3 separate regions of the Homo sapiens genome follow, and regions 2 and 3 are each linked to region 1. Evidence: fine-mapped expression QTL. A gene starts in region 1. Each other region holds a variant in brackets. All regions are shown on one strand. Distances are between the middles of the regions.

Region 1 (10,596 bases):
CTGGTATCCGCTTCTCAAATACTCTTTGTCTCTCTCTTTCTTCCTTTCTTTTTACTTTCTTTCTCTCGCTTCTCTTTTCCTGGAGAAAATGAAATGTCTCTCTCTTCAGGCCTCAGGAAAGTGTACCATGGGTTTATTCCAAGTACTGGACATTTGTGTCCCCTGCCTAGACCTCTTTCCCAGAAGAGCCATGCTTTCTGCTGCTTTTTCCCCAGCAGCCCGAATTCTTACAGTCCATACCTCAGAAAGCTAACTGGGATTAGATGTCAAGGAGTGTAGTCTGCCCAGGATATATATGCTGTGTGTCTATCGTTGCCTCTTTATTTAACTCAGGAATTACAATCCACCTAAAACAGAGAAGAAAAGGGTGGCACACAGGTACTGAATTGGGATGATGTCCATTCTCCTGGCTGTGTGAAGAAATTTGATGTAAAGCCTCTCAATGTTGTCACATTCCCAAGGCCTAGAGTTAGACTTCTCAAAATTTCATTTGAGACTGCTGGACACCAATTTGAGACTGCTAGACATCCCCTGATCTGCAGTCTGCCTAAAAATCCTGACCCAGAGGGTAAGGAGGTTCAGAGTGACTGATGGAGAACTGGCTACAACCAGTCAACCCCCTTCACACTGAGATGCGTTCAAAGGGTGTGGTGTCTGAGTCTAGGAAGGACTTTGGAACCTACAGATTTGACAAAAATCCAAGCCTTTTCTTGCCAGATCTTTACACACTCATCTGGGGAAGAGTATAACATTTGGGAGAACCCAGGGGGTTGAAATAGTGGATATTGGATTTGGTTCAGAGGTCACACTCACACAGATGAGTATGGGGCACTGATTTCATATCTGTTGGTAGTTGTGCACAATGTCACTTCGGTTTGCTAGCCCTTCTAAAAGTCATACTCAGAGGCCATTAAGCCAGTTCACTACAACCCAGATCCAGGAGAGGAAGATAATAACATACAGCTTTCAAAGACTATCCCATTCTCAGCTGAACTCCAACACAAGTGTAAGTAAAACTTGGGAATGGCTAAGAGAGAAAGTTTTAAACTTGAGAAAGGTAGATTATCATTGTAATGATAATGGTGGTAGTAGTAGCTGCAGGAGCAGCAGGATTAAAAGCAGGATCATTTACGAGGAAAAGCCCAAGAGAGAAAAGTATGAGTCAGAAGTAATGATCCCTACAGTTGGGAGCCTGAAGTCCTTCCTCACAGGCTACAAAATTACCCAACCCTGAGTCTCTGGCTTTCCCAGGGCCAGCCTGGAAAACATTTGCTCATGTAATACCCAGTGAGCCAACTACAATACTTAGGGTGAGGAACAGACCTAAACTGAGTTTGCAATGTATACTTATAAAAAACGAGTAGCCCTTCCCACACCCCACCCCCTCACATCATCCTTTACCCAACTCAGCAAGCATGGCTCTTCTCGACTCACCAAAATGTAAAACAAACAAACAAACCCCTCTGGGTCTTTTTAAAAACCCACCATGTATCTTTCTCTTGATAAAGGCAAAGTGGTAGAAAATGAGTTAACAACCCTCTGAACAACATTTTTGGCACAGGCCTGGTGTTTTTCTTAATTGACCAGCCCATCATTTCTGTTTCTCTTTCATGTACAAGTAGTCAGTAAAGTTTATCCCTTAAAAAGTTCCTTATTCTGAATGGTGAGGCTAGGTAATACAATACTCCTCCTTGAAGATCTATTCTCTTCCTCCCTCAACCCTCACAGCCCCTTCCAGAGACCTCCCTGTGGGAAATTAATAAGCTTAGGAAGGAGCTGCCACTGTCTGCTCCATTGGCATCCTCTTATCTTCCAGTGTGTGGGTTTTTTCCCCCCCTTTCACCATGAATTGCCATACTCTTTTGACAATCAAGCCTTTGCTGGCATAGTGCTTTGGCAATAGAGTTAGAGGTGGGTAAGCCAGGACCTAGAAAGATATAGAAAAAGAAAATCAGTGTGTTTTCATTCTCATGGGATAATAATCTTTACGTGAATTATTCTTGGAGATGTTACCTGCCTCTTATCACAGAAGTTGAAATATTTTGGGCTCCATTTTTGAACCCTGGGAAGAGAAAGAGTGTTCCCATTCTAATACTCCCTAAGAATTAAAATTCCCTTTCTTACCCTTTCTCCACCCTCTCACTTAGGTCATAAAAGCCACCTGGGGTGTCATTTATCAACCTCTCTCCAGCCCACTCTTCCAAAATAACACTACAGTTTCCTACATGTGTATTTTTGCCAGGACTCCAAAGAGCCTTGCTAAAGTGGAACAAGGTGAGCATACCCACTCTTCATTGTCATTCTTCTAATTACTTAATTGGAAATAAAATCCTAGGGAAGAGAGCTCCAAATATATGCATAAACCCATTGTTCCATATGAATTACATAAAACTATTGACTAGGTACACTTTTATAGTACTGTCTGAGGCTGAATAAATGCCTCAACCCTTCATTTAGTATCAGTGAATTCCAGTAAGTATTAATGCAGAGTGATTTCAAAGTAGTTTATGTACCATTTTAGCCCATAAATTTCTACAGAAATAAAAATAATTTGTAGATTTTCTTTATCCCCTATTAATTATTGTCATTTAGGACATTTATATTACCAAGCAAAATGTGTACCACTTAAATTACTAGAAAACTCTTCAAGTAAGAATTTCGACTTAATCTTACTTATATTGTTTTGTTATGTCAGTTATTTAACTCATAATAAAAAGGGTAGGTCAGATTCATAAAATGTGAGAAATTCTTATATTTAAGGATCTCTACCTGAAAGCAGTAGGAAAAAAATTAATTAGAGGGCAAAAAAGTGAAACTGAAATGAAGCATCTGTTGGCCAGATTCTCAATAAATTGCTCCCTTCTCAGATGTATAAAATTGTCGCTGTTTTCTAGCTTAAGACATAAAAAGGTCAAGCTGTTCCACCCTCAACTTAAGTACCAAAAACATTATTTTATACAAACTGGAGTCAAGGTTTTAGTACCTCAAAAGAAATATAGTTTAAATGGTCTCTGTATTTAATAAGAGAAAGGCCAGGCACAAGAAAAATGCCTTCCATTTAGAGTTTATTTTCTAAATGTCCACATTCTGGAGTAGAGGCTTACATATTTACAATATGTAAGATAATTTTTTAATGGTTTGCATGGACAGATGACTTTTCCTGAAAGATAAAATTCCAATTCTCTAAATAACAGCAAAAGAAAGCATTAAGGAGTGTTCTGTTAGACAGATTAATGAAATTATGTTCTTAAACACTGCTCCTCACACACCATATTGCATTTATCAGTCTAGTTTCTAAGGGACCACATGACTCTCTTATGGCTACTTTTCTTTCTTAACTTGAAGTTGTTTACACCCGTGCCTCTTCTGCTCTTTATTTTTCTTCTTTCTTCTACTCTGAATTAACTTAAGTTTCTGGCCACTATTCTTCAAACCTGAGGTTTATTTTCCAGATGTTTGAGACATTATTTTCACATTTCTAATGCTTCCACCCATTCTTTAAAGAAGTATTAGGGGACCATGTGTCCATACTTTGTGTGTGTGTGTGTGTGTGTGTTTGTGTGTGTGTAGAGAGAGAGAGAGACTGAGAAGTGAATCTAGTATTCAATGGAGCAATCAGTCAGAAGACAATTGGTAGCTCAGTATAGCTGCAGATTCTTACATACAGGCATGTGAGAGAGCCCTCATTGCACTGAGCCTTGGTCATTAGGAGCCAACCTTAGCCGAAGTAGATAAAATTGCACATAGCCAAAGTACATAAAACTGCACTTCAAGAAGCTTTCTTTGAAAAGTCAGTAGCTAACCTGAAAACTAAGGGATTCCCCATTTTCTCTGAATATATGGGGATTTTGCAGCCCTTCCTTCTGTGAATTTCAGCTTAATTCTAGGCAGCAATTCGGAATTTGCCTGGGGTACTAACCAGAAAAGAGAAGGAAATACACACACACACACACACACACACACAGAGAGAGAGAGAGAGAGAGAGAGAGAGAGAACAAGGAAGAACATGAACTTCATGGGAAAGTCCTTGCACTTGTTTCTCCTCAGCAAAATCCTCCCCTGGCCTCCTGGGACTGCAGTCACCAGGCTGTCAAAGCCTCAATACCCCACTGAGTTCCAGAGAAGGGTCTCAAAGCTGGGAGAGGATCAAACTAACATGGTAAGCTGCTCTTTGCCAACTCCCCAAATACATTATTTCAACACTAGGAAAAACAACAACGAGGCTGTCTCCTTACGTTGTGGTTCTGCCTCCTCCACTTTAGCTAGCTACACAATCCGATTTATCCTAATGCTGACAGATTGCCCACTTCAAAGTAGTGGTGGTGTGTGTGGGGCTGAAGGAGTTGAGAAACTGTCTATACCACTCAAAGGCCTTTCTTCCTTTAGGAGTAGAGAATTGAACTGTGAAAAAGAAGCCCGAGATTCCCCAGCGACGTGGTGTTGCAGCCCCGTTGAAGGAGTCAACTTGCAGGCTGTTAAAGACCTCAAGTCATTAGCATCAGCTGCTGCACTAAAGGGGCAAGTCAGCGCCTCTAAGTGGCTTAGCGCACAAACGAGGCTCCCGAGACGGCCTCGGCAACTCCATCCCCTCCTCCACCACCCGCTGGATGTGAAAAGCTTTCCGGAGCCCATCTTGGTAATCATTTTTATTTTTAATCACCCTTGCCCCCCAACCCCAAGACCTCAGAGTGCCAACAGTACCCATTATAGACTCCCTCTGGGGCTGCGCAGAACGCACCAAGCAGAGGGGGGGAAAAACCCCACGAAAACAAAAACAAACAAAAAAAAAACAGGAACTGTTTGAGTCCAGTAACCTGCGCTCTTCCCACCAACCTCCCACACCCCACCTCCGCCCACGTACCCGTGTCCTGGGACTAGGAGGTACCGTTATGTCCCCTTCCGAGGTCTGGTGACATTCTCACTCCAACCTCATCTCCCAAGCCACGGGAAGGCTGAGCCAAGTTCTCACCAAAGCGCATCCTTTCTGAATTTTGCAGGGGGAAGCTTGGTAGTGTTGGCGCTCCTGAAGAGAGACGACGCCCGTTTATCACCCCCAGGCAACTAGCTGCGCAAATCAGCGGTGGCTCCAGGGCTAGAGAATCCCTGGAGCTAACCGCACCCCTCTCCCTTTCACGGAACGCGGACTCCGGGGAAATACGCACGGGGTCCGCACGCGCTGGGTGTCCAGCTCTCTGTCACAGCTTCTCCAAGTGCCTAGTGAAACGGGGAAAGGCCCTCTCCAATCATTTTGGTACCTTCCTTTCCAATCCTGAAACGATTTTCCCCTCCTAGCAGTCCCAGAGGGCCCGAGCTTTAGGAGGAGGCGGGCCGGGACGCTCTCTGAGAGGCGTTGCCACCCGGGGTAGGCGCTCAGGATCTGCGGGGCGCGGGCAGGCCGGGGGAAAAAGCTGCGAGGCAGGCGGCGCCGGAGGGAGCGCCTGGCCCAGCAAAGAGTTAAAGGGAGGGGACGTGGGCTGTCACGCGTCATTGGGCAGATTATGTGCAGCAAACAAAAAGTGTGTGTCTGCGTGCCAGTCAGTCACTGCATCGGGTCCATCTGTACAACTCTCTCCGTTTCTCCGTCTCTCTCCCTCCCTCCCTCCCTCCACCCCCCCAATCTTTTTCTCCCCATCTCTCCATCTCTCTCTTATCTCTTCAGGAAGAGCCTAAAAGGCGGCAACACCAACACCTCTTGACATGGAAATACACTGATACAATAGGCAAAAGGAAACACTCGATTGCATCTTCCCGGTTCCAGGTGGCCTTATTTGGGAGATTCTATACTGACCTTATTCCTGGTAAGTCTATTTGCATTGATGTGGGAGGGGGATGGGAGGAAGACAGTTTGGTGGAAAGAGTAGAACATTTTGTCTTCCGTCTCCTTATTATCCAGAAGAGAGAGAAAAATAATTCTTGAGGGGCTGTCTACTGCCAGTAATATTGTACAAAAGGAGGAGCGGGTGGTGAGCACTTTGCCGGAGAAGCCGGAGACTGGGGAGCGCGCGGCCGCCAGACAATGCCTGCCTAGAGGGACGGGCCAGTGGCGGGCAGCAGCGACCGGCTTTCAGAAAGCCCCGCCGGCTCTGGGGTATATTCCCAGGGCAGGCGGATAAGAACCTGGGCCTAGAGCGGGGCACGGAGCTGTGAAACGTTGCGTGGCAAAGGCGACCGCACGCGGGCGGGCGCTCCTAGGCTCTTGCCCAGCGGTTATTGTGATGGGCTTGAGGCTCGTGGCGCCTGGCGCTGCGACTCCGACCGCTATTAGCGCGGCGTAGTGAGGACCTTTTTGCCGTATTGTTAGGTAGAACTGCATTTTAATGACTGTGTCCCTGCTGTTGCCCGAAGTGACGGGGCGACCTCCCGGCACAATGAAATGCTTGTGTGAAAGAGATTTTTAAAAGGAAGAGAGAAATTGGGGAATAAAACGCTGAATTGAAGGAAATTGAAAAGAGGAGAATAGGATTCCGTTGAAAAGGAGATAAGAGGTTATGGGGTTTTTAAAATGTATTTTAATTTGAAATGAAAAAATCAGGATGTCTACCTTGTATGGGGTAAAAATGACCAGGGATAGATGATGCAGAATAAAAAAGTTTCTACTTTATGGATATTTTCCCTTATTTCTGCTGTCTGGGAGATACAGCCCAACACTTGACATTTGGGGGATGCAAGAGGATGAATGGAAAATGAGGCTAACCAAAGTTTTAGGCTATGTTAGCTGGAATGGGGGGAAAAAAGCACACCTTGTAATCACACGTGTAAGGTTAACTGGTTAATATAAATTAAAATAAAAATAGATGTCACTGACATTATTCCATAATGAACAGCTTTGCAGGAAAAGAATTAGATCTACTCTTTCCTGCTACTTTAATTATATAAAACATACATAAATAATTGCCAACAGTGACATTATTAGGGAACAACAAACTTGGAGGAATATTTTGATTAGTCTGAAATACTAAGCAATGCAGCTAGTTCAAAGCTAGTTTAAAAATTTAAATACCTGGGTTTTTTTGGGTTTTTTTTTTTTTGTTTTTTTTTTTTTTTTTTTTTTTTAGTGATAAGTCTTGTATGGGGTGTCCAGAGGAAGGAAAATGTCCCTTTATGACACCTTAATAAAGGGCATTGGGGCATTACTTTCTAAATTGCTGCGGATTAAACAGCTGGGGAGCCCACTGAGGAGTGCTCAAGCAGGGCTGCCCCCTCTTGCCCAAAAAGGGTCATATGGGGTAGGGGGAGTGAAAATTTACCAGTCATTACACACAGTATTTCAGACTGGGGACACTTTAGGCCTGTCCTGTACCTGCTCACTTCATGAGCCACATGTGACTCAATCCACCCCCTTGTATAACAAGGTAACCGGGATTCACTCTCATCCATAAATAAGCACGTCCAGAAAAAAAAATTACCTCTGCTTGCTGCTTTTAATTAAAGCCTCAGAGGAACAGTGTTGGATTATGGTAATGAGCAGACATACGTCCCTTCTTGTAGGCTGCAGAGAAAGGTTAGCTGACACAGAATTAGTGGCCCTGACATTCCACTTGAAATCCATTCGCCATGCTCCGCTGTCTCCGCCTGCTCACTAACGCTGTTCCCCTCCTTGGAAGAAAAGAAAAAAATCAGCTCCCGGGCACCCAGTTCAATACATAGGCAGACAGGCACTTTCCCCCAAGGGTTAGAAGTTTCTTTCAGTAAGGGAAGTCTATAGGCTGGTTTAAAAAATTATATATATGTATATATATATATATGTGTGTGTGTGTGTGTGTGTGTGTGTGTACATATATATATAATTCTGCCTGGAACTTCACCTCTAAAACCTACCCAATCCAACATCAAGGTAATGCAAAAATTATCTAGTCTTTCCTAGCCCTTTCTTTTCTTTCTCCCAAGCAGTCAGCTCCAGATCTCCCACTATTCTAATTATTTTAACAAGTATCCCTTAGTTTTCATCTTTAAAATATGCCATGTTTATCTGCTTTAATTTTGAAATAAGAGCTATGCAAAAATCAGGCATGTGCAAGGAAAATCTACCTAGTATTTGGACAGTTCTGCTTGGGTTAATGGCGTTAAAAGCAGTAACATAACTCACTTTCTTGTGCTGTGTGTCTATCTCCAGTGATGGAGGATACTGGCATCCAGCGAGGCATCTGGGATGGAGATGCCAAGGCTGTCCAACAATGTCTGACAGATATTTTTACCAGCGTTTACACCACCTGCGACATCCCTGAGAATGCTATATTTGGTCCCTGTGTCCTGAGCCATACTTCCCTATATGACAGCATAGCTTTCATAGCTCTCAAGTCTACTGACAAGAGAACAGTACCGTATATCTTTCGGGTAAGTCTCCACTGTAGCTGTGTAGGTGTATGAGGGTAATGTCCTGTTGGAAATGGACTAAAAATAATTATAATGACAAGTGGAGATAGGTTTTGCCTGTGGAAAAATGCAATAATGCAAGCAATCCCATTTCACACATCAAAAATTAGAAAAGGAAAATTAAACTCAAATTATTGTCAACTGATTTTTTGGAATAAATGACAAAATTTGATTTGGAATGTTAGAAATATCTAAATCAGTGCTTCAGTTCTGGATTATCCTGGTGATGAACACGACTTCCTAAACTCTGGGAGATTTCACTGGGGTGGAGGCTATTTGCATACTAACTAGTTTCTGCAAGTTCTTTGACAAGTATTGGGTACATCTGCCTTCCATTTGAGGAGGCTTCTTCATCCCCTAAAGATTAGTTTCTTTGGTAATATTAGCTAGTGCCCAGAGTTTGTATTTAAATAAAAATGTTTATGGTTTTGACAGTAAAGCATCATCAAATCCATATGTCTGAATTGGAAGATTCAGACCTCTCATTTCCTATTCTTCTTTACAAAGAAAATCTATTAATTGTTCTAGCCAAGATTAGGAACATGATTGCCATAGCATAATTTCTAAGATCTAAGCTTGCTTTATTTCTGAAACAAACAAAATTCTCCATACCTTTGTAATGTGGAATAACTTAGAAGTAAACTCTCAAGGGGTTAACACTAAATTATAAGAAGAAATTTCCTCATTTAGTATTCAACCAATATATAAAAACGGTGACTTAAATAAACTATATGATTGATGCAGTGTTTCAAAGAATGGTTATCTTGCCTAATGGTTACAAACATGAGGACAGGTCCCAGCTTGGGCCAAACTTTTGGAAGCGTGGTCTCAGACAATTTTTGGAAAAGACTAACATAGAAGAAATGGTCTTGATTCTTCTGATTTCATTCCCTCATGAGGGTCCCTCTCCCCCTCTCCTTCTTGTCTTCTTTCATTTATTTCAAACCGCAGGTAGACACCTCAGCAGCAAATGGTTCCTCAGAAGGTCTCATGTGGCTGCGGTTGGTCCAATCGGCCAGAGATAAGGAAGAGCAGAACCTTGAAGCCTACATAAAAAACGGACAGCTGTTCTACCGCTCTCTCCGCAGGATTGCCAAAGACGAGGAGTTACTAGTTTGGTACGGGAAAGAACTGACTGAGTTACTCTTGCTCTGCCCCTCTAGATCCCACAACAAAATGAATGGTAGGTTGGCTCGCGACCGGCGTGTGGGCCCTTAACTAGCGGGGGAGAGACGCAGGGAGCGGCAGGGGCTCACCCGGCGCGTTGGCGCGCCTTTCTTCCCTTCGGGTGTCTCATAGGAAGATTCTGAGATGTAGTCTGGAATGAAGTTAAACAGATAGGTGAGGATAAAGCGAGGAAACTTGCTTGTTTGCTGTATTCCCTCCAAATCAGGAGGGAAAGTTAGATCAGGTTGGTCATTCTTTTCTCAGGCACTCAGGCCCTGAGAAATGAAGGTGGATTTGTCAAGGGGATGGTGGCAAACTGGCTTGGGGGCGATGCTGAGTAATCATGTGGTGTGCGTGTGTGTGTGTGTGTGCGTGCGTGCGTGTGTGTGGTGTTTGCTCACTAAGCAGGGTCGTCCCCTTACACATGCCTGGAATGCAGCCAACGTTTCCAGTTTGAGTTCCCCTATGTGGCGCATCTGCGTTTCCGCTGCCCCAAGAGACTTCACAGCGCTGATATAAGTCCCCAAGACGAACAAGGCGGCGGCGTGGGCACCAAGGACCACGGGGGCGGCGGCGGCGGTGGCAAAGACCAGCAGCAGCAGCAGCAGGAGGCACCTTTAGGCCCGGGTCCCAAGTTTTGCAAAGCCGGCCCCCTCCACCACTACCCATCCCCCTCCCCGGAAAGCAGCAACCCATCCGCTGCCGCCGGCGGCAGCAGCGCGAAGCCATCCACAGACTTCCACAACCTGGCCAGGGAGCTGGAAAACTCCCGGGGAGGCAGCAGCTGCTCCCCAGCCCAGAGCCTCAGCAGCGGTAGCGGCAGCGGCGGCGGCGGCGGCCACCAGGAGGCGGAGCTGAGTCCCGACGGCATCGCCACGGGCGGCGGCAAAGGAAAGAGGAAATTCCCGGAGGAGGCGGCGGAGGGCGGCGGTGGCGCTGGTCTGGTAGGGGGCCGGGGCCGCTTCGTAGAGCGGCCCCTCCCGGCCTCCAAGGAGGATCTGGTGTGCACACCGCAGCAGTACCGAGCCTCGGGCAGCTACTTCGGCCTGGAAGAGA
Region 2 (10,596 bases), 130 kb before region 1:
AAGCAATGCATGGAAAGTATTTTGCACACTGCCTGGTGCATAATAATTGTTCAATAAATGTTTTCAACTAAATCTCTGTTACAGTATTAGCATAATATTTAACAGAACTGAGCTTAATTCACTATCCCCAATTATGCAAAATAATAACTAAAAATACTTTTTAATTAGTCTTGATTCCAAATTCTCTACTGTTGAAAGGCTGGGTATTTCCATACTGAATCAACACTTGGCATTTTTCTCTTACCTAACCCTATAATACATCCCTGGGCTATTTATGTGCATGTGTATACCTCTACTCACACACACACTAGATTACTTATCTTTGTGTTACCCCAGGTTCCACAGTACTCAATGCATTGAATATAAGATAAGCAAGTCTTTAGGTAGGTGGGTGGGTAGGTGGAGGAATGGACTAACAGACATATGGAGGGTAAAAATCATGAGAGCAAGAGAAAAGAAGGCAGTGTTTCAAATTAAAGTATTTAAAAGAATAAGGTTTTTAAGTTACGAGTATATAAAATGCATAACATCATTTTTTGGCATGTTTATTACTTTATTCATGCATTTACATAGTACCGGATGCCATGCTGAAAGCATAACAGAAGACACAGCCCTACGGTAAGTATTTACTACCTTCTAATCTTGCCTCATCTCTACTAAGAATCTTCAGCAACACTCTGAGAAACATGAAAGAGCTACTTATTTACCAAGATTGTGAAGAATTATGAGTGCTAGAAACAAAATTGTGAAACCTGCAGTGCTTAACCTTTGGTTTTCTTTGCTTAACCTTTGCTTTCCTCACACACTCTGATCTATTTGTGATTGTAATATATAACATCAAGATTTTAATAGTTTATATGCAGAATTCCAATTTCTAGGCTTTGAAACAAAGATTCACAATAGTTGTGGAATCATTTGTTTACTGATCTGCATATAATATGCAAATTGTTTCTTCACACTTAAAAGTGTGTAATGGAGGAAAAGTGACCCTATATCCAAATATAGAGGACCACAGAAACTTGAGAAGTTACTGATTTAATTAAATAAAATTAGTAAAATAGCAATATAGAACAAGAAAATAATGTCCTTTATTGGAGGTTGTCCTATGCTATACAAAGGAACTTTATATACATTATCTTATTTTGATCTTCACAAAAACTCAAATATGGAAGATTTTATGTCCTGCACCTTATGGACATAAAACTGATACACTGTTATACAATTTGCCCCAAGTTTCCAAATCAGTCAGTGACAAAACTGGAACTCTAGCCTAGGCATTCTCAGTGTTATTTTCTGCCACCCCAAACTAATTAAAAATGCCACAAATAGTGAAATTTATTAAAACTTAAAGTGTTTATATTTAGGAAGAGACAGAGGAACCAACTATGTATAAAACAAGTTGCAAGTAGTGTTATTAAAATTCCTTTTGGAATATTATAAATCCTTTTAAGAAGGGCAATATTTTCTTTATGTAAGCATGATTCTTCTCTGATCATTAAAATACTGTATACTGCCTAGCTCCAGATGATAATAATAGTGATAAAGCCTTTATCTCTTGAAAACTTATATACCAGACTCTGTTCTAAATACTTCACATTCATCAACTTTCATTCATGTAACAATTTTATGGGGTAGGTATTACTATCATCATCATCATCATTGCCGTCATTATATAGATGAAAAAAGAAGAAGCATAAAGAGGTTAAGCAACTTATCCTTGACCATTTGGCTAGTAAATTGGAAAGCCAGGATTTACACGCAGGTAGATTTGGTCTAGTGACTCTTAGCTGCAACATTATGCTGCCTCTTTAAAGAAAGGCCTCTTCTGGTGAGGTGCAGTGGCTCACGCCTGTAATCCTAGCACTTTGGGAGGCCGAGGCGGACGGATCACGAGGTCAGGAGATCAGGAGATCGAGACCATCCCGGCTAACACGGTGAAACCCCGTCTCTACTAAAAAATACAAAAAATTAGCCGGGCGTGGTGGTGGGTGCCTGTAGTCTCAGCTACGCGGGAGGCTGAGGCAGGAGAATGGTGTGAACCTGGGAGGTGGAGCTTGCAGTGAGCCAAGATCATGCCATTGCACTCCAGCCTGGGCAACAGAACGAGACTCTGTCTCACAAAAAAAAAAAAGAAAGAAAGAAAGGCCTCTTCTGTAACCTATCTCAGTGTCTCCCCTATTAGATTCAACCAATGATGAAAGAAGAATCACTAACGTGGGTTAAAGATTTAAACCCCTTCCATGCGTATCTAAGCAATACCAATCTGGTCACCCAGTGACCTACACTTCATCTTCAAAGTGCTGAGGAACCATATGCAAAGTGTCTAGCAAAGAACCTGGCACAATGTTTGCAGCTATCAATGACTGAGAGTTTCTACAAGCCTGGCATGATGCTAAGTGTTTTTCTATATATAGGAATGCCATAAATGTTAAAATGGTTCTTTTTTTTCTGGATTGGCTAGATACAAGGCTGTTTCTTTGGAAATTAAGCTGGGCAATGGAGAAAATTTATTTTCATAAAGGCGAGAACTGTTAAATCACTGAGCATAGAAAGCTGCCATACACGGGTTGTGGACTACCATGGCTCTGGCTCCTGATGAGATTCATTCTCATCCACACAAGAAAGTAAGGAGGGCCATTATCCTCAGCAAACTAACACAGGAACAGAAAACCCAACACTGCATGTTCTTGTAAGTGGAAGCTGAACAATGAGAACACATGAACACAGGGAGGGGAACAACGCACACTGGGGCCTGTGAGGGGTGCAGGGGAGAAAGAGCATCAGGATAGATAGCTAATGCATGTGATGGGTTGATAGATGCAGCAAACTACCACGGCACACGTTTACCTATGTAACAAACCTGCATGCCCTGCACATGTATCCCAGAACTTAAAATTAAAATTAAATTAAATTTAAAAAGAAGAAAGAAAGGAGAAGTATCAATGGGAAGACAAGATCCTAGGCTGCACTCAGCATCTGCAGGGAGATTTTCCTCTCTAGGAAAAGGAAAACTAAAAGCACAAAGATTAAAATCTTATACGGATAATTTTCTAAATCAATTAAGTGAATTATAAATAAGTTCTCTCCCCCAGTTCCTTTAGATATTATGATTTCTTGACCTTTTCAAGGGAAAACTTAATTTACAAAAAACTGTTTTTACAGTTAACTTTTCAGAAATTCACATATCATGCAAAACAAAGTACACCAGCTTCCCTTGCTGAAACTACAGTTCAGAAAAATTTTATTTCAAAATAACAGGAAACCACTCATTCATTCATTCAACAAGAATTTATTGACCAAAAACTGGCTTACATACTCTGTTAAATAAAGTAGACATAAAAATGAAGAATAAAAGCTCCCTCCCACTATGGATCCCATTCTTTAAAACATGTCAGTGAGGTGGGGTGTGGTGGCTCACACCTATAATCCCAGAACTTTGGGAGGTCAAGGCAGGCAGATCTCTTGAGGTCAGGAGTTCAAGATCAACCTGGCCAATACAGTGAAACCCCCGTCTCTACTAAAAAAATACAAAAATTGGCCAGGTGTGGTGGCATGTGCCTATAATCCCAGCTACTCGGGAGGCTGAAGCATGAGAATTGCTTGAACCTGGGAGGTGGGGGCTGCAGTGAGCCAAGATAGCACCACTGCACTCCAGCCTGGGCAACAGAGAGAGACTCTGTCTCAAAAAATAAAAATAACATAAAATATATCAATGACTATTTCTAACTTGTCATTGACACTGTTTGAATGACACAGAAATGGTCATATGAAATACTGTGACATTGGTCTGAAAAAGACACCTTTTAAAAAACACTAAGGAGATTAAATAGATAGGTAGATAGATATAGAGATATATTGGTATACATATTGATATATACTAAGTTCCCTTATAAAGGTGAATATATTCAGCATTAATGGACCTCAGAGAAAGACCAGAAATCCAGGATGTCTACTGAATCTAGGAAATTATCCAAAAGGATCCATATCTTTCTCCCCCTCAATGTTCTTCAAATTCCTGGTTGATTAATATATTATATCTAAACAAGAAAAATGTAGAACTACTTACAGTAACAGAGAGGCCGGGGAAGGTAGGAAGTGGTGAATATACAACTAAGACAGGGATCTAGATTTCACTGCACATTCCACAGCCACTATAAATGATATTGATTTTCAGATTAACTGCTCTTTTATATTACTCATACCTCCTTTCCCTTCTATTAGAGAACTGAATTGTCTGTGCATCTGCTTGATTCCACTGAGAGGCCTGAATCACCACTTGGAAATATCAATCATGCCTTTAAAATTCATCTCTACTAAAAGCCTGCAGTGAAATGATAATGCACTAACCTGTCTCCAGTTAATGGCAAAATAATAGTTGCTTGAGAAGAAAACACAATGAAAGATAATCTCATTTCAGGGCTGCAAAATAAGAAAAGAGGCAGTTAAAACATTTTTAAAAAGAAATATTGATACGATACAGATGTATAGTTAGGGAGGTTCATTTAAAATTGGTCTCACTGAATGGTCCAGGCTTCTTTTAAATGACATTCCCTAAGTAAATAGACGAACTCTGCTTAACATTGTTGCATAAGTCATTTTGGATTTAGTCAACGCTTCCCAGCACTCACATACTCCTCCATGACCCATAAGGACTTGCATTTAGAGAGAGACTAACTGGAAAGATAAATTCTAAGCTGATGTAAAATTCTTTCGTAGAAAATTCCTCTTCCCTTGGTTTTCTACAACATTTCCTTTAAAGGTGGCCAGGCCCTTCAAAGTGATTATGGTTATCAACACTTATGGGTGGAGAGTACCCAGTTTGACTTAATGACCATAACTATGATATGAGTCTATAAAAAAGTCATCCTGAAGTAAGACTACTTAAAGAGTCATGGAAAATGTGAAAGAAACAATAAATCACTTTCTGCTTAGGCATTTTTTATTTTCTAAGTCTCAAACATGCTATTTTCCATTGGCAACAAGTGCCCCAGTCAGCTATATCTTTCAAGTTTTAGGCATGTCTCTCACAGAACGGTTCTTGCTTCTCGGACACTCTCTGCAACTACTACTAAGATTCAAAACTGAAGATATGAAACTAGAATCTATAAACTGAAAATCAGAATCCTCTCAAAGGCTTATACATATTTTAAAAGTCAGTCTCTTCATTAGTCACCCCTTATTC[A/G]CTTCCTACAATGTATTGTTAGTAATTGAGCAACTAGGCTTGAGCCAGACAACTGTGTATTATAGAATTCCAACTTAAAAACCAGATCAATGAGTTAAGATAAGAGCTTGCTTCTTTAAAATGTTGTAGTGATGTGATTCATTGCTTTTGATCAAAATCTACATGACACCCTTTTCACATTGAAGGATTAAATTAGAAAATTTATAAACAACTGTCTGTTCTGCCTTTGACATTTAGGGACATAGGATCTTGTTTGTTTTTCTTTCCTAGACAGTTTTACCTCAGACCCTGTCCAGAAATGAGTGTTAAACTTGGCTTCTTAAGCAAGGGACTGATGATTGAACATGGACAGGCATACATTTTTATAGGGATAACTTTACTGCTGCCAATAACTGAAAGCAAGGATTGCCTAGGCCTCTACAGATTGTTTGAAGTTACTTGCAACATGACTTTCAAAATGTTTTGATCATCCAAGCCTGTTTTACAGAAAACATTTGGGCTAACAAGACTGAAAGAAGCAATATTTAATGATACAGTTCCTATTCATGTCCTTTCCATTATCTTGATAAACTTGTGTTTGCTCATTGCATTTTTTCTTTAAAAAAAAAAGAAGGAAAAAAAAAGCCTCAAAAGCCTAGTGTCCTGAGGTTATTTTTAAATAGGAGATGCCACTAATTCCTAGTTACCTCTAAATAAGAGAGTAAGCTGGATTTCATACCAGTAATGCTTTTTATAGGAGAGGAAACCAGTCTTTCCTGGTGATGCTTATTGCATATATAGAACAGTTAAATTTTAAACCAACCACACACCCACACATTGTGTAAACACAAGTCGTTGCTTTAAACACACACACAAGTGCCTTTTCTGGTAGCGGGTTATTAACACATGTTCATTTGAAGTTTTCCAACACTTTTTGTTTGTTTTAATGAGGGCCTCTATAATGCTAAGAAATGTGTGGAAAGAAAAATATATTATGGATACTATTCGCATAAAATTTATTTTTTTAATGTGATAAATTATGAGAAAGCATAACTGAAATTCAAAACAGATGAAAATTCGGAAAGAAAAAGACATTTGGAATAGTATTTGAAGATGCTTCCCCAGAGTCTGAGCCAAGTTTCTGGGATCCAGATGAAATAAGCCCTCAAGGACTGAAGGGCTGTCCTAATAACAGCATGTGTGCAATACGACCTTGAGGCACTTAAAAGTAACATTTCAGGAAAAGTTTTTCCTATAAAAGGTTTCAGAAAAGGGAAATTCTACACTTTGCTCTACTTCTCCACTGCCTAGAAAAGTAAAGTAAGAAAGATACCTCACAAATCTCTCCGCAAGTTGCTGTACGAAATTATAAATTTCAATCCAGTTATTTGCCACACTCCCAGACCTGAAAGATGAAATTGAACTGATCAGAGAAACAAAACACGGAACTGAAAAGTAAACATTTTGAAATGGTTCCTTCTTCAATGCCACGAACATAGGGGCACCTGGCCTCTTTTTCAAGCTAAGTAAGGGTATCTGTAGCTGAAACTTTGGTGGTACCCAGAGTTAAAGAAGTCAGTCCCAGAGCAAGACTCCGTCAAAAAAAAAAAGAAGAAGAAGAAGTCAGCCCGTTTTCTGGGGTGGGTAAATACCTGCCTAATTGTTTAGAGTGGAACCCAGCTCTTCAGAGTAAACACAAAAGCCTTTCTTCGCAGGAAATGCAAACCACATTGGGCATGTTAACCCTAGGCTTTTCCTGGCTCCAATGAAAGCGCTATGATTAGGATAAAACCAGGCAAACTTTAGCCTGCGTACGAGCAGGGTCGAGGAGGTGGGTAAGGACTCTGTGGCCGATGGAGCGTGGCCCGCAAGAGGCCACACTCCCATTTCCCAAGAGGCCAAAAGACTGGCAAACAGTGAATACCCCAACTCCCCAAAGAGCCAAGTAGCCCGGGGCTCCAATCACTACCCCCGACCCGGCTGATCTCCGCCCACACAGATCCGAACGCGCTTGCCCTTTGAAAGAAGACAGCAACAGGGCACCCCTCCGCGGGTTTCCAACACCACTCCCCGGGGTGCGCACACGCATCTCAGCCTCAGCCCCAGCTGATCCAGTGCCGCCCTCACCAGGAGACCCTGGACCTCCCTCGCACACTCACTTGTCCAGGACGAAGTAGAGATCAAAGGCTCTTCTGCAGGAGGGCTGCTCCTGGGCGCGCAGCAGCCCCCCGGGACCGCTGAGCACCAACAGCCACAGCCCGGGGAACAGCCAGCTCCCGGGGCTGCGGGCCGGGGACCGCTCCGCCACCATCCTGCGGCCGGGGGCCTGAGACTCCCTCCCGCTCGCAGTCCCCTAAGCTCAGGAGGGTCGCAAAGGTGGCGGGAGTCACCCGGCACGCACTCTGGGGTGGGGGGCGGCGAGCAGCTGAGACGCCGGCGCCTGCGGCAGCGGGACCCACCAGCTGACAGGGAGGGAGAGAGGGAGGTCCTGAGAGGACAAAGGGAGTCTCCGCCACCGCCGCAGCTGCCGCCGGAACTCTTGACGAATCCCAGTGGAAGCGCGATCCAGTCCTCCCCCTCCCGATTCCGGAGAGTTCCTGCAGACAATGCGGGCCCACGGCGACAGCTCGCGAAAGGAGTTCCTCTCCGGCCTGGGGCCGAGCCTCCAGCGCCCGCCTCGGACCCGGACCTGGAACCCACCCCGCCTGGAGGGCTGAAGTCCCCCCCGCTGCCGTGCGCTTCGGGACAAGGGGTCCCTGGGACGCGGCGACGGCAGAACAAACTAGGAGTGGAGACTCTTCTCCTCCGGCGGCCCCAACTCCCTCCGCACTCCGAAACTTTCCTCCCGGTGCTGGACTCTGGCACTGCGCTGACAGGCCGTCCCCTTTAGGGGAGGAGGCTAGCTGGCCCTGGGACTCCCGGCTGGAGAGAAGCCACGCCGAGGGCAGGAGCCCGCTCGGGCCGGGTCTGGGCTGCGTGTGTCAGTGTGCGCCTGGGGACGAGGGCGGGGCCCCAGCTGAAGCCTCCGAGCCACACATGCACACTTGTGGGTTCCTGCCGAGTTGAAGATGACTAACGCTTGCCAGATTTGGGAAAGGGAAGAAGGAGTTTAGAAAAACAAAAGTTATCTAGAAACTAAACATACCCGTATGTCCTGCAGGCCTGGCCTATTTTAGCAGCTGTGCTAAAACAGCCCCCATGCGTGGTTCACAAACCCAAGACTAAGGATTCCATGGGAGGTGACGGCCTCCTCACTCCTCACTCCACCCCACCCCTACTACCACAAACACTCTTTATGAACTTCCTCTTTTTCTTCTAAAGAAACCTGCTTAGTTTTTTTTTTTTTTTTCTTTAAAAAAAGCCAAGCCAAGGAAAGGCCGGAGTGGGGAGTGGGAGGGGATAGCAGGCCTCTTTGGGAGTGGAAAGTTGTACCTCAAAATATTTCAGCCCACTGTCATTTCCCTGCAAGCTCCAGTTTTGGAGAATTTCAGCTTTGGGCAAGCTAGGTCTCCTTTGCAAAACTTGTGCAAGCACTCAAGTTTGTGCACAAATCCTCTGTCTACTAGTTCTGCTCTCCCTCCTCTCTCTTCCCCCCACCTCCGTGACTTCCGCCCTCCCTTAGTCAAAACTGGCTTTTAGAACCTAAATACCTTTTCATTTTTAACAAAATCAATGCTTTATGTAGTACTTACATATACATCTCTTCTGTTTGTTGCCATATGTATTTAACTTTTCATTTATTATATTTGATATACAACCAGATATGTCAGCTCTTTGAAGATAAAAATTAGTTACTTTAACAAAGATTCATTGAGTGCCTATTATTTGCTAGGCACTGTTCCAGAAGTGGAGGTTAGTGCACAGAACAAGATAACAAGCCCTTGCTTTCATGAAGCTGACAGTCTGGCTGAAGAGTGAAAACAGACAATAAGAAATAAATACATAAGCAAGGAAAAAAAATGTCCATATTGGAAAGGTGGCCTGTAGAAATTTAAAATATTGTGATGATAAAGAATGACAGACTCAGTGACTAACAAAAAAGACCCAGTCATTCCAAGAGCTCTAAGGGGAAACATTTGGAGTTACTGCAAAGGTCCATAGACATTAGCTTAGCATATTCAAAAAAGAAAAAAAAAAAACTGTGTAGCTGGAGCTTTGCAGGTAAGATGATGTAAGACAAATAGGCAAGGGCCAGATTATGTGATGCTTTGTTTACTGAGATAAGGAATTCAGATATTTAATATTGAGTGTGACAGGAGGTTATTAGAGGGGTTTAAGCCCAGGAGTGGAGTGGCAGATGAATTGATATGATCTGTGTTTTTCAAAGATCATTCTGGCTGCAATGAGACAATGAATTTGGAGTTAGCAACAGTGACAACAGGGAGAGCAGTTAGGAGACTATTGCAGTAGCAACATGTTGACAAACAATCCTGAGGTTCATAAATTTGGAAAGGAGAACTTCATTTCTTATAAAGGGTTACAGCTGCAGGCTGGACATCTTGACAGGCTGGGAAGTGTAGCCTCTGGCAGAGACAAAAAGCAGGCACTTTGAGGGAGGAAAGGGTGGAACAGGAATTTATGCTAAATGAGTTGGCCAAGTATACATATTCAACAGGTTATAGGAGGAACTATGAATATTTCTGAAGCAAGGGGTACATGAACTATGCATATTTCTGAAGCAGGTGGGTTAAGTTTCCACATCAAAGTGAACATGGGACATATGCAACATGCATGTTTAGTAAGCAAACATGAATAGTAAGCAAACATGCAAGTTGCATATGTCTCATGTTCACTTTGAGGTGGAGACTTAACAATTAAATGTATTATAATTAGGCCCTATATGTCAAAAGGTGAAACAGAAGACATGAAGGCACTCAGTGCCACAGCCTCTGTAAACCAGCCAGAACCAGTCTATGGTCAGTGGTCTCTTATCAGGAGAGTTATTAAAATCAGTCTCTTGTCCAGTCAGAGCTGTAGTTATGGCTTGTGGAACAGGGGTAGGGGTGGAGGATTAATTAGTTAGTGTCTTGCAGTCAGTAAGATGCAATTGTTTCAATATTGCTTATCTGGAGGCCAGTGTTTGTTTAGATGCTAGAGAAAAAGAAAACCCTTTTGGCAGTTAGAATATAGTTTATTTTTTAAGTGTAGGAGTGTGTGACTTGACCTTTGCCTGGCATGGTCTTAGGTCTTGTTTATAATTTGGTGTCTTATGAACACAGAGTACATTCTGTCAGTCTTATCATCTCTATTTTAACAAAGGCAAAATAAAATGGTACCTTGGACCATCATCACTATAGCAACTAACCTGAGAATTATGAATGGATGAAAACTTCAATATATACCGGCAGACCTCCATTTTGAAAATATGCTCATTACAAATGTCAAACATTGAATGGAGGGTGGCTAACATCCCTTCTCACTCTTTGCCAACTGGT
Region 3 (10,596 bases), 28 kb before region 1:
CACCTGAAATTACAAAACTACTATAATAAAATATAGAGGAAAAAGCTTCTTAACATTGGTCTTCGCAAAGATTTCTTGAATATGACCCCAAAAGCACTGACAATAAAAGCAAAAATAAACTGGATTTCATCAAACTAAAAAGGTTCTGTACAGCCAAGAAAACAACTAACAGAGTGAAGAGACAACCTACGAAATAAGAGAAGATACGTGCAAACCATACACCTAATGAGAGGATAATATCCAAAATATGTAAGGAAGCCAAACAACTCAATAACAAGAAAACAGCATGATTTTTAAATGGGCAAAGGACCCAAATGAACATTTCTCAAAAGACATTGAAAGGGCTAACAGGTTTATGAAACTAATCATCAGGAAAATGCAAATCAAAGTCACAATGAAATATCACTTCACATCTATTATAATGCCTTTTATGTTTAAAAAAAGATAGAAGATGTTGGTGAAGATGCAGAGAAAAAGGAATTCTTGCACATTGCTGGTGAGAATGTAAATTAGTATAGCAATTATGGAAAACAATATGGAGGTTTTTCAAAAAATTAAAAATAGAACTACCATATGAACCAGCAATTCCACTTCTGGGTACATATCCAAATGAAATTAAATCAGTATGTGGAAGAGATATCTGCACTCCTGTGTTTATTGCAGCATTATTCACAATAGCCAAGATATTTAATAAACTTAAGTGTCCATCAACAGATGAACAAATAAAATGTGGTACATATGCACAATGGAATACTATTCAGCCTTAAAAAAAGAAGAAAATTCTGTGATTTGTAACAACATGAATGGAACTTGAGGACATTATTCTAAGTAAAATAAGTCCAGCACAGAAAGACAAATACTGCATGATCTCACTTATATGCAGAATCTTTAAAAGTTGAATTAAAAGATGTAGAGAGTAGAATGGCAGTTACTAGGGGCTGGCTGGGGACAAAGAGAGTATGGGAAGATGCTGGTCACAAGGTTTAAAGTTTCAGTTAGACAGCAGAAATAAGTTCTGAAGATCTATTGTATAGCATGGTAACTATAGTTAATAATAATGTACTGTGTACTTGAGAATTGCTAAGAGAGCAGATTTTAAATTTTCTCACCACAAAAAAAAGTATTTGAGGTGATGTACATGCTAATTATCTTGATTCAATTATTCCAAATGTATACATATATCAAAGCATTATGTTGCACTGCACATATGTACACAATACAACTTTTTAAAAATATAAGCCAGTGTGGTAGGTCACGCCTATAATCCAAGTACTTTGGGAGGCTGAAGCAAGAGGATGGCTTGAGCAAAGCTGTTCAAGACCAGATCTGGCAACATAGTGAGACCCTGTCACTACAAAAAATAAATAAAAAATTATCCAGGCATGGTGGCACACACTTGTAGTCTCACCTACTCAGGAGGCTGATGTGGGAGGATCACTTGAGCCTGGGAGGTAGAGGTTGCAGCGCGCTGTAGTCACATCACTGCACTCCAGCCTGGGTGACAGAGCGAGACTGTCTCAAAAAATTTGTATATCTGTATCTATATCAGATATACATCAAATATTGTCAAATGCCAATTCAGGATCAATTGATAAAATGTGGGTTTTTCTTCTTAGATTGTCAATATGATGAGTTACACAGATTACTTTTCAATTATTGAACAAACCTTGCATTATTTGAGTAAATTGCATTTTTCCTTAGTGCTGGTTTCCTGTTTACCTTTTATATAATGCTGTGTTCAATTTCCTGATATTTTACCAGGGACTGTGTCTATGTTCATGAGGAATATATTGGTCTTTGGAATTTTTTTTCCTGTATCACCTTTGTTTGAATTTTATTCGTGGTTTCATAAAATAAATTATGAAATATCTCCTTTATTCCATTTTCTGGAAGAAAGTATGTAGCATTAGTGTTATATCTCCTTTAAATATTTAGTAGAATTTAACTAGCATTAGTGTTATATCTCCTTTAAACATTTAGTGGAATTTAACAGTTAAGACACCTAAGCATAAAGATTTCTTTTTCAGAAAGCTTTTTTGGTTAACTTTGAATTCGAGGTTTTAATAGCTGTAGGACCATTCATATTATCTATATCATCTTGGGTAAGTATTGGTAATTTGATGTATTTCAAGTAATTTGAATTTCACATAATTTGTCAGATTTGTTGCATTTATCAATAGTATTAACTTAGTATCCTCTTAGAGCCTGCAAAGTCAGTCATGGTGTCTCTTCTTTTATTCCTGATACTGGAAATTTGTGTCTTGTCTCTTTTTTCTTTGTAAATCTTGCTAGAGCTTTATAAATTGTATCAATCTTTTAAGGGTATCAGCTTGTGTTTTCCTTGATTATTGTGTTTCTGCTTTTTATTCATTTGATTTATGTTGTTATTTTTACTATTTCTTTCTGTTTCTTTTTTTTCTTGTTTCTAGTTTAAGGTGGGAGCTTAGATTTTTTTTTTTTAGAATGTTTTTTCCCCCTCTCTTTCTTTTCTTTCCTTTCCTTTCCTTCCTTCTTTCCTCCCTCCCTCCCTCCCTTCCTTCCTTCCCCTCTTTCTTTTTCCTTTCTTCCTTCCTTCCTTCCTTCCTTCCTTCCTTCCTTCCTTCCTTCTTTCTTTCTTTCTTTCTTTCCTTCAAGTCTCACTTTGTCACCCAGGCTGGAGTGCAGCACAAACATAGCTCACTGCACCCTCCATCTCCCAAGCAATACTCCAGCTTTGGCCCCCAAGTAGCTGAGAAAACAGGCGCACATAACTATGCCCAGCTAATTTTGTGTTTTTCTTGAGATGGAGTTTAGTCATGTTGCCAAGACTGATCTCAAACTTCTGAGCTCTAGCGATCTGCCCAGTGTGGCCTCCCAAAGTGCTGGGATTATAGGCATGAGCCACTGCACCTGATCTCTTCTTTTCTGATAGATGTATCTTGTTGTTATAAATTTTAATCCAAACAGTGACTTAGTTGCATCAAAAAAAAATTTATGTATTTTCATTTTTCTTCATTTCAAAATATTTTCTAATTTCTCTCGAGATTTCTGCTTTGATACATGGGTTATTTCAATACGTGTTATTTAACTTCCAAGGGTCTAGAAATTTTCCTGTTAATTTTCTGATATTTGTTTCTTGTTTAATATCCACTGTGGTCAGAGAACATCTTCATATATTCCAAATATTTTAAATTTGTTAATTTTTTTTTATGTTCCAGGACACGTCTTATCTTGGTAAAGATTCCAATTGCATGTGGGAAAAAATGTATATTTTGCTGTTGTTTGGGGGAGTGTTCTATAAATGCCAATTAGATCCAGTTGTTCGATAGTGATACTTTTTTCTTCTATATCCTGCTTGATTTTTTGGTCTACTAGTTATTCTGTTACTGAGAAAATAGTATTGGAGTCTTCAATTATAATTGTATATTAGTCTATTTACCTTTTAACTTCCATTCCTTTTTGTTTTGTGTAACTTAATTACTATTACTAGGTGCATACAGATTGAAGATGGTTTTATCTTATTGATAATTTGACTCCTTTAACATTATATACTGACCCTTTTATTCCTGGTAGTTTTTTGGCTATAAAGTCTATATCAGTAATCAATATAGCCACTGCAGATATCTATTGATTAATGTTTTCAGGTGTTCATTTTTATCATTCTACTATTGACCTAATATTTTTTGATCAAATATATTTGAACACACTATTTTGTAGACAGCATAAATTTGTTTTGTGGTGGTTTTTTTTCCCTGTCTTTTCCATTGGTGTGTTTAGAACATTTTCATTTAATACAATTATTGAAAGTTTGCATTTAGAGCTACCATTTTATTATTTGTTTTTGTTCAGTGTATCTCATTTCTGTTCTCCTGTTTTCCCTTTCCTATTTTAGGTTAAGCATTTTTTAGTATTCTGGATTATATGGTAACTTTGTGTTTAACTTTTTGAGAAATTACCTACCATATCTTTGCCAACACTTATTATTATTTTTTTCTTACAACCATTCTAGTGTTGTGAAGTGGTAGCTAGTGATTTAGGTTTATCCATTGTTTTTTATTATATATTTTGTATAGCTTTTAAGCAATTGCACTAGGGCTTATAAGATAGCATGCTAGTTTTGCACAGTCTACGTAGAATAAGTATTTCACTACTTTAGGTAGACTATAGATACATTACCACCATATGTGTCTTTTTACCCTCCCTCCACATTAAAACCCCATCACAAAATATTATCTCACCTGCAATGTGTGCAGTTGTGATAAAATATACGTGCATAAAATTTACCATTTTAACACTTTTCCTTAAGTGTACAGCTCAGTGGCATTAACTACATTCACACTGTTGTGCAACCTTCACCACTATCCATCTCCAGAACTTTTTCGTTGTTTCAAACAGAAACTCTGTACCCACTAAATCATAACTCTCCTTTCCTCCTCACCCCACTGTTCTACTTTTGGCCTCTATGAATTTTACTAATCTAAATACTTCATACAAGTAGAATTATAAAATATTTGTCAGTTTGTACCTAGCTTATTTTCCTTAGTATAATGTTTTCAAGGTTCATTCTTGTTGTAGTGTGTGGCGGTATATCATTAGGTTTTATGGGTAAATATTATTCCATTGTATACATATAAGATATTCTGTTTATTCATTCATCAGTTGATGGATATTTGGGTTGTTTCCACTTTTTAGTTATGAATAGTGATCCTATGAGCATGGGCATACAAGTTTTTGTGCGAACATATCTTTTAAACTCCCTTGAATATGTTATCAAAGGATAGAATTTCTGGATCATATGATAACTTAACCTTCTGAAGAACTG[T/C]CACATCCTTGGCAACACTTGTTATTATCTGTCCTTTTTATTATAACCAATCTAGTATGTGTGAAATGATACCTCATTGTTGTTTTGATTTAAATTTCCCTCATTACTAATAATATTGAGCATCTTTTCAAGTGCCTATTAGTGATTTTTAAATCTTCTTTAGAGAAATGTCTATTTAAATCCTTTGCTCTTTCTTTAATTGCATCACTTTTTTATTATTGAGTAGCAAGGGCTCTTTCTATACTGTAGCTGTAAGACTCTTATCAAATATATGATTTGCAAGTTCTCAATGTTTTTGTTGCTTTTAATTTGAATATCATATTATAGAATTCTTTAGAAAATCCAAAATCATGAAGATTTTACCTCTATGTTTTCTTCTAAGAACATTCAGTTTTTAGGACTTCGATCCATTTTGAGTTAATTTTTGTGTATGGTATGAGGTAAGGGTTTAGCTTCATTCTTTTGCCTGTGGCTATCCAATTGTCCCAGCACAATTTGTGGGGATTATTCTTTCCCCATTAATGTTTTAGGACCCTGTGCACAAAATGAGTTGGCCATGGAGATATGGGTTTAGTTCTAGATTCTCAATTCTGTGCATTGTGTTATGGACTGAATTGTGTTTCCTGCCCCCCATATACATGTATTGAAGCCCTAACCCATCTGTATTTGGAGATACAGCCTTTAAGAAGGTAATGAAGATTAAATGAGGTCATAAAAGTAGGACCTGAACCCAATAGGACGGGTATCCTTAGAACAAGAGAAAGAAACACCACAAGTGCATGCTCACATAGGAGAAGACAGTGAAAAGGCAGCCATCTGCAACTCAGGAAGAAAGTTCATACCAGAAACCATTCCTGATGACACCTTGATCTTGGACTTTCAGCCTCAAGACCTGTGAGAGAATACATTTCTGTTGCTTAAGCCATCCAGTCTGTGATATTCTGCTATGGCACCTAAGCAAATAAATAAAAATGTTTGTCTTGTGCCAGTATCACTCTGTTATTATTACAATTGCTTTGTAGTAGGTTTTGAAACCAAGACATATAAGCTCTCCTTATTTATTATTTTCAGGTTTGTTTTGGTATTCTGAGTTCCTTGCAATTTCGCATTAAGTTTAGAGTCAGCCATCAATGTCAGCAAAGTCAGCTGGGTTTCCAATAAAAATTATGTTGAATCTGTAGATCAACATATTGCCATTTTAACAATATTAAGTCTTACTATCCATGACCATGGTATGTTTTTTCACTTATTTAATCTTCTGTAATTTCTTTTAACAATATTTTGTAGTATTCAGGGTATAAATTTTGCGTTTATTTTGTTAAATTTGCTCCTGTGGGTATTTTATTCTTTCTGATGCTAATATGAATGAAATTGTTTACTTAACTTATTTTCATATTGTTTATTGTAAGTGTATAGACATACAAATTATTCTTGCAGAGTGATTTTGTATCCTGCAAAACTGTTTAACTTAGTTATTAGTATAGCCACGCCAGCTTTCTTGTGGTTGTTGTTTGCTTGAATTTTTTTTTTTTTTTTTAGATAGGATCTCACTCAGTCACACAGTTTGGAGTGCAGTGGCACCATCTCAACTCACTGCAACCTCCACCTCCCAGGTTCAAGTGATTCTCATGCCCCAGCTCCCTAAATAGCTGAGACTGCAGGTGTGTGCCACGATGCCTGGCTAATTTTTGTACTTTTAGTACAGATGGGATTTCACCAAGTTGGTCAAGCTGGTGTCAAATTCCTGGCCTCAAGTGATCTGCCCACCTCAGCCTCCAAAGTGCTGGAATTACAGGCATGAGCCACTGCACCTGGTCTTTGATATTTTTAAATCCTTTTATTTTCAATCTATTTATGTCTTTGAATATAAAGTTTATCCTGAAGACAACATATAGTTAAAGCATGTTTTTAAATCAAGTCTGATAATCTCTGCTTTTTGATTTAATTGTTTAATTTACCCTGATAAGAAGTTTCTGTTGCATGTATTTCATCCAGTATACAATTTATACTTTTCCATTCTTTTGCATGCTCATAATTTGTTGTTAGAAACTGGACATTTTAGATAATATATCTTAGTAACTCTGGAAACTGGTACCCCGCCCCCCTCTAGGATTGCGATTATTATTTTCTTGTTTATTTGTTTAGTGAGTGCTGAGTTATTTTAGTTGAAGTCTATTCCCTGGCTTCCATTCCCTCACTTTTCAACATACACATCATGGTAAGCCTCTGATGCTCTCTGATCAGTGAGGCACAGTTCTGGGTATATCTAACAATTATCCTGGGATAGTAGTGGTACTGGTAAGATTCTCTCCCACCCTTTCGCTGATTACACCTAGCTGTTAAACTCTACTAATTTCTGGCCTATTGCTTAATTGTTTCCAACAGTGCCCTGGAACATAATTTTTTCTTTACAAATAAATCCAATTGGCCGGGCATGGTGGCTCATGCCTGTAATCCCAGCACTTTGGGAGGCCAAGGCGGGAGGATCATCTGAGGTCAGGAGTTTGGGACGAGCCTGGCCAACACGGTGAAACCCCGTCTCTACTAAAAATACAAAAATTAGCTGGGCATGGTGGCAGGTGCCTGTAATCCCAGCTACTCAGGAGGCTGAGGCAGGAGAATCGCTTGAACCCATGAGGCAGAGGTTGCAGTGAGCTGAGATTGTGCCATTGCACTCCAGCCTGGGAGACACAGTGAGACTCTGTCTCAAAAAAAAAAAAAAAAAAAAGATATACAAATAAATCTAATAATATTGTGACACTTTATATGGGAAAGTTTCTGAGATCAGTGTTTGCTATTTGTATTAACTCCAAGAGAGCTCCTGTCAGCTATCTTATTTCCCAGTTCTCTCTTACAAACTAGCTGGCCTACAGTCTAGGCTATATCTTCATTTGGTCCCAAAATTTCCTCTCAATTGCTTTTCACCACAACTTCTACTGTTCTTGAGAGTGCCCTTAAGTTTAAAATTATCTACACTTTGTTTGGAATAAAGTAAGATCCCTTGGGAAGAGATAAAGAGTTGCATGCTTTATGGCCTGATTCTCTCCCTAGGCAAAATTTCTGAGCTAGAGCACGGAGTTGGGGGTGGAAACAATGACAAGCTTCTCTCTGAGTAATACCCTGGCTCTAATTGCTGAATGCTTGGTGGATGGGGTGAGAGAGGAGTTTGCAGGTCTTTCAGCTTGCCACTCATGGTGTGGAAACTTTACTTCAAAGGCCAAGGAAAAGGCTCCCAAGGCTCCAGTATTCCTGTTAACAGCCCAATTGGTTCATCTTACCCACTGCCCAGAAAAGCCAATTCCCTGAAAATAGCAGATACTGCAGCAAAGAAAGAGTTTAAGTATTGAAAGCTCGGAGGCTAAGGATAATTTGGCAGGCAGGGGGTTAGGGACTAGGTCCTGCTGATTGGTTCAGGATGAAATCATAGGTGTATCCAAAATGTTCTTCATGTGCTGAGTCAGTTTCAGGGTAGGGGGTCACAGGATTGGTTAAGTCAGTTCCCTGGTATGAGTCACAGATCCAGGTGGCATCAACTGGTCAGCCAAAGTGCAAAAGTCTGAAAAATACCTCAAAGACCAATATTGGGTTTTGACAATACCGTTGGTATCTATAAGAGCAATTAAAGAACTTACAAATCTTGTCATCTTCGGAACTGTGGCTGGTTATCATTTAACTACATCTACATCTTACCAGAATTCATTCCCCACTCATAATCCTAAGCTTTTGGCCTTTCATTAGTCCTACAAAGGTGGTTTCAGTCCCCAGAGGGGGTCAGTTTTTGGGGGAGACTATTATCCTTTATTTAAAGTTAAACTATAAGCTAAATTCCTTCCACAATTAGCTTCGCCTACACCCAGGAATGAGCAAACACAGTTAGCTTGTTAAGTTAGAAGTATGGCAGTGTCAGCTAGGTTACATTTCTCTCACTGTCATAATTTTTGCAAAGGTAGTTTCATTCTCAATGCACCACACCCAAGGTAGAACTTCCTTTTTACAAGAAAGTGTTGGGTGGGAGAAGGAAGCTTCCTCCTCCCAGTTGTATTCACCTAAGACTTAGCCTTAGCAACAGACAGCTACGGGCAGGACCAAAAAAGCTCAAGTTATGTCCTATTGCAATGAAAGCCCTGCAGCTGACACCTAAGGAATATAAAGAGTCATATTCTTGGCTGCAGCGTCTGGAGTAGAGTCTCTGCCTCACTGAGCTGGGAGGGGCAAGGAAAGTAGTAGTTTCAGTTCAAATGTCACAGACTCACCTCTCTTGACAGATATTCATAATTTCCTCTAATAGGTATTTCTTTATTTACCATTTGCCCTTAGGACCATTTCCAGAGAATTTAAGTGGTTGTTTCTTTACACACAATTTTCACCAGTTTCACTGAGGAGTGGCTCAGCAGAGTTTCCCACACTGCCATTCTAGAAGTCAATCTATTTCACTTGTATTTATTGTTCAGCTATATATGTTACTTACAAGACTCTTCTTTGCTTTCCACTCCTAATTTTCTGTTTTCCTATAGCTAACTCTGTCTCTCTCCTTTGAAACACTGACTTCCAACTTTATATCAGTCCTCTCAAGTTTTCAAACTCTTAGTTTCTATGAGATTTAGAAATCGGGCTTTTGTTTGTGCTGATGTTTACAGTGAATATTCAAGACTCTGATATTGGCTATAATTTTTTTTTAGAGTTAAAGTCTTCCTTTGTTGCTCAGGCTGGATTGCAGTGGCACAATTTTAACTTACTGTGGCCTTGAACTCCCAGGCTCATGCAATTCTCCCACCTCAGCTTCCTCAGTAGCTGGGACTACAGGAACGTGCCACCACAATCAGATAATTTGATTTATTTATTTATTGCAGAGACAGAATATTGCTATGTTGCCCAACCTGATCCTGAGCTCTTGGTCGCAAGTTATCCTCCCAGCTCAGTCTCCTAAAGCACTGAGATTGCAGGCATGAGCCATGACAACCGGCCTTGAGTATAATTTTAATCTAAGGCTTCAGGAAAGAGAGCATGCTTCTCCACCACTGTCCTCTTCCATTTTTTTGTCTGTGGGTTAGTTCAGGTTCAGGAGGAAGAGACAGGGATGGCAAAGTTGGAAAGAGAAAATGTTACTTCATTCTAAAATCTACACAGTTTGTGAATTCAAGGGAAGCCATTAGTAGGAGTTCCTATTGCTGTGCAGCTGATTTGTTTTGAGGTAGTCACCCTTTGTTGAAGCCTGGCTGGCTTCCTTGAAAACAATCAGCAAGTGACTAACCAGGCATAGTAAGACTGGTGCTGACACAGGAAACCACCAAATGATGAGAGACCTGGGGATGCCCAAAGGAAGTCAATAAAAGCATACTCTCAAATTCTTCCAGATTTTGGCTTGCAAAGCCTCCCAAGACTTCTGGAAATCCTTCCTAAATGCTACTAGGAATGTTCCAGCCAAAGGGCTCTGAGAAATGATTCTTTAAAATCTTGGATGCTTAAGTTTACAAAACCCAGTAAGTTTTTACTTCCAGTTGAAACTGTGCATGAAAAAGATGTTTTCAGAAAGAGTTCTCAGATAATTCTATTTGTGAATAATAGTAGTAATGTAATGGTTATTCTCCATTTGTCTCTCCAAAATCCATTCTCTGTCCTCTCCTGGCTCTATATTGCCAGAGGCTGACTCATGCAGATTCGTTAGCATGCTCCAGAACCTTGCTGGTTAGTTAGCTTCCGGTTGAGTTAGGCCATTGGAAGGCATTAACATGAAATTGGAGCATGTGAGAAAAGAAAAGATGAGTTATTTCTTCCCTGTCCTCTCCTTGCTACAC

Alleles and levels. Positions count from the first base shown, and alleles are read on the strand shown. Sizes are in standard deviations (SD) of each study's normalised expression.
For the expression in fibroblasts of the gene that starts at base 5,538 in region 1, allele A in region 2 goes with a higher level than allele G (moderate effect, 0.47 SD a copy in GENCORD).
For the expression in fibroblasts of the gene that starts at base 5,538 in region 1, T is the low allele of the variant in region 3 and C is the other (small effect, 0.20 SD a copy in GTEx).

What was found. PIP is the estimated chance that this variant, and not a neighbour inherited with it, causes the effect.
Region 2: its variant is fine-mapped to the expression of PRDM8 in fibroblasts (GENCORD, PIP 0.95).
Region 3: its variant is fine-mapped to the expression of PRDM8 in fibroblasts (GTEx, PIP above 0.99).

What each region holds. Positions count from the first base shown.
Region 1 is chr4:80,191,966-80,202,561 of GRCh38, forward strand. It overlaps PRDM8 (PR/SET domain 8), which reads left to right and starts at 5,538. Exons shown (of 4, transcript NM_001099403.2): 1 at 5,538-5,798; 2 at 8,114-8,334; 3 at 9,325-9,556; 4 at 9,949-10,596. The coding sequence starts at 8,116. It overlaps PRDM8-AS1 (PRDM8 antisense RNA 1), which reads right to left and starts at 5,379. Exons shown (of 6, transcript NR_183912.1): 1 at 5,163-5,379; 2 at 4,862-5,023; 3 at 241-347. RefSeq lists enhancers at 4,148-4,765, 4,766-5,381, 8,859-10,058 and a silencer at 10,421-10,500.
Region 2 is chr4:80,065,089-80,075,684 of GRCh38, forward strand. ANTXR2 (ANTXR cell adhesion molecule 2) reads right to left here and starts at 8,141. Exons shown (of 17, transcript NM_058172.6): 1 at 7,321-8,141; 2 at 6,495-6,566; 3 at 4,348-4,419. The coding sequence starts at 7,472. RefSeq lists a silencer at 7,431-7,590 and enhancers at 7,771-7,880, 8,211-8,490. The variant A/G (reference allele first, on the strand shown) is at 5,183.
Region 3 is chr4:80,163,536-80,174,131 of GRCh38, forward strand. No RefSeq gene overlaps it. Among named protein-coding and RNA genes, the nearest start is that of PRDM8-AS1, 29 kb to the right of the region's middle. The variant T/C (reference allele first, on the strand shown) is at 4,802.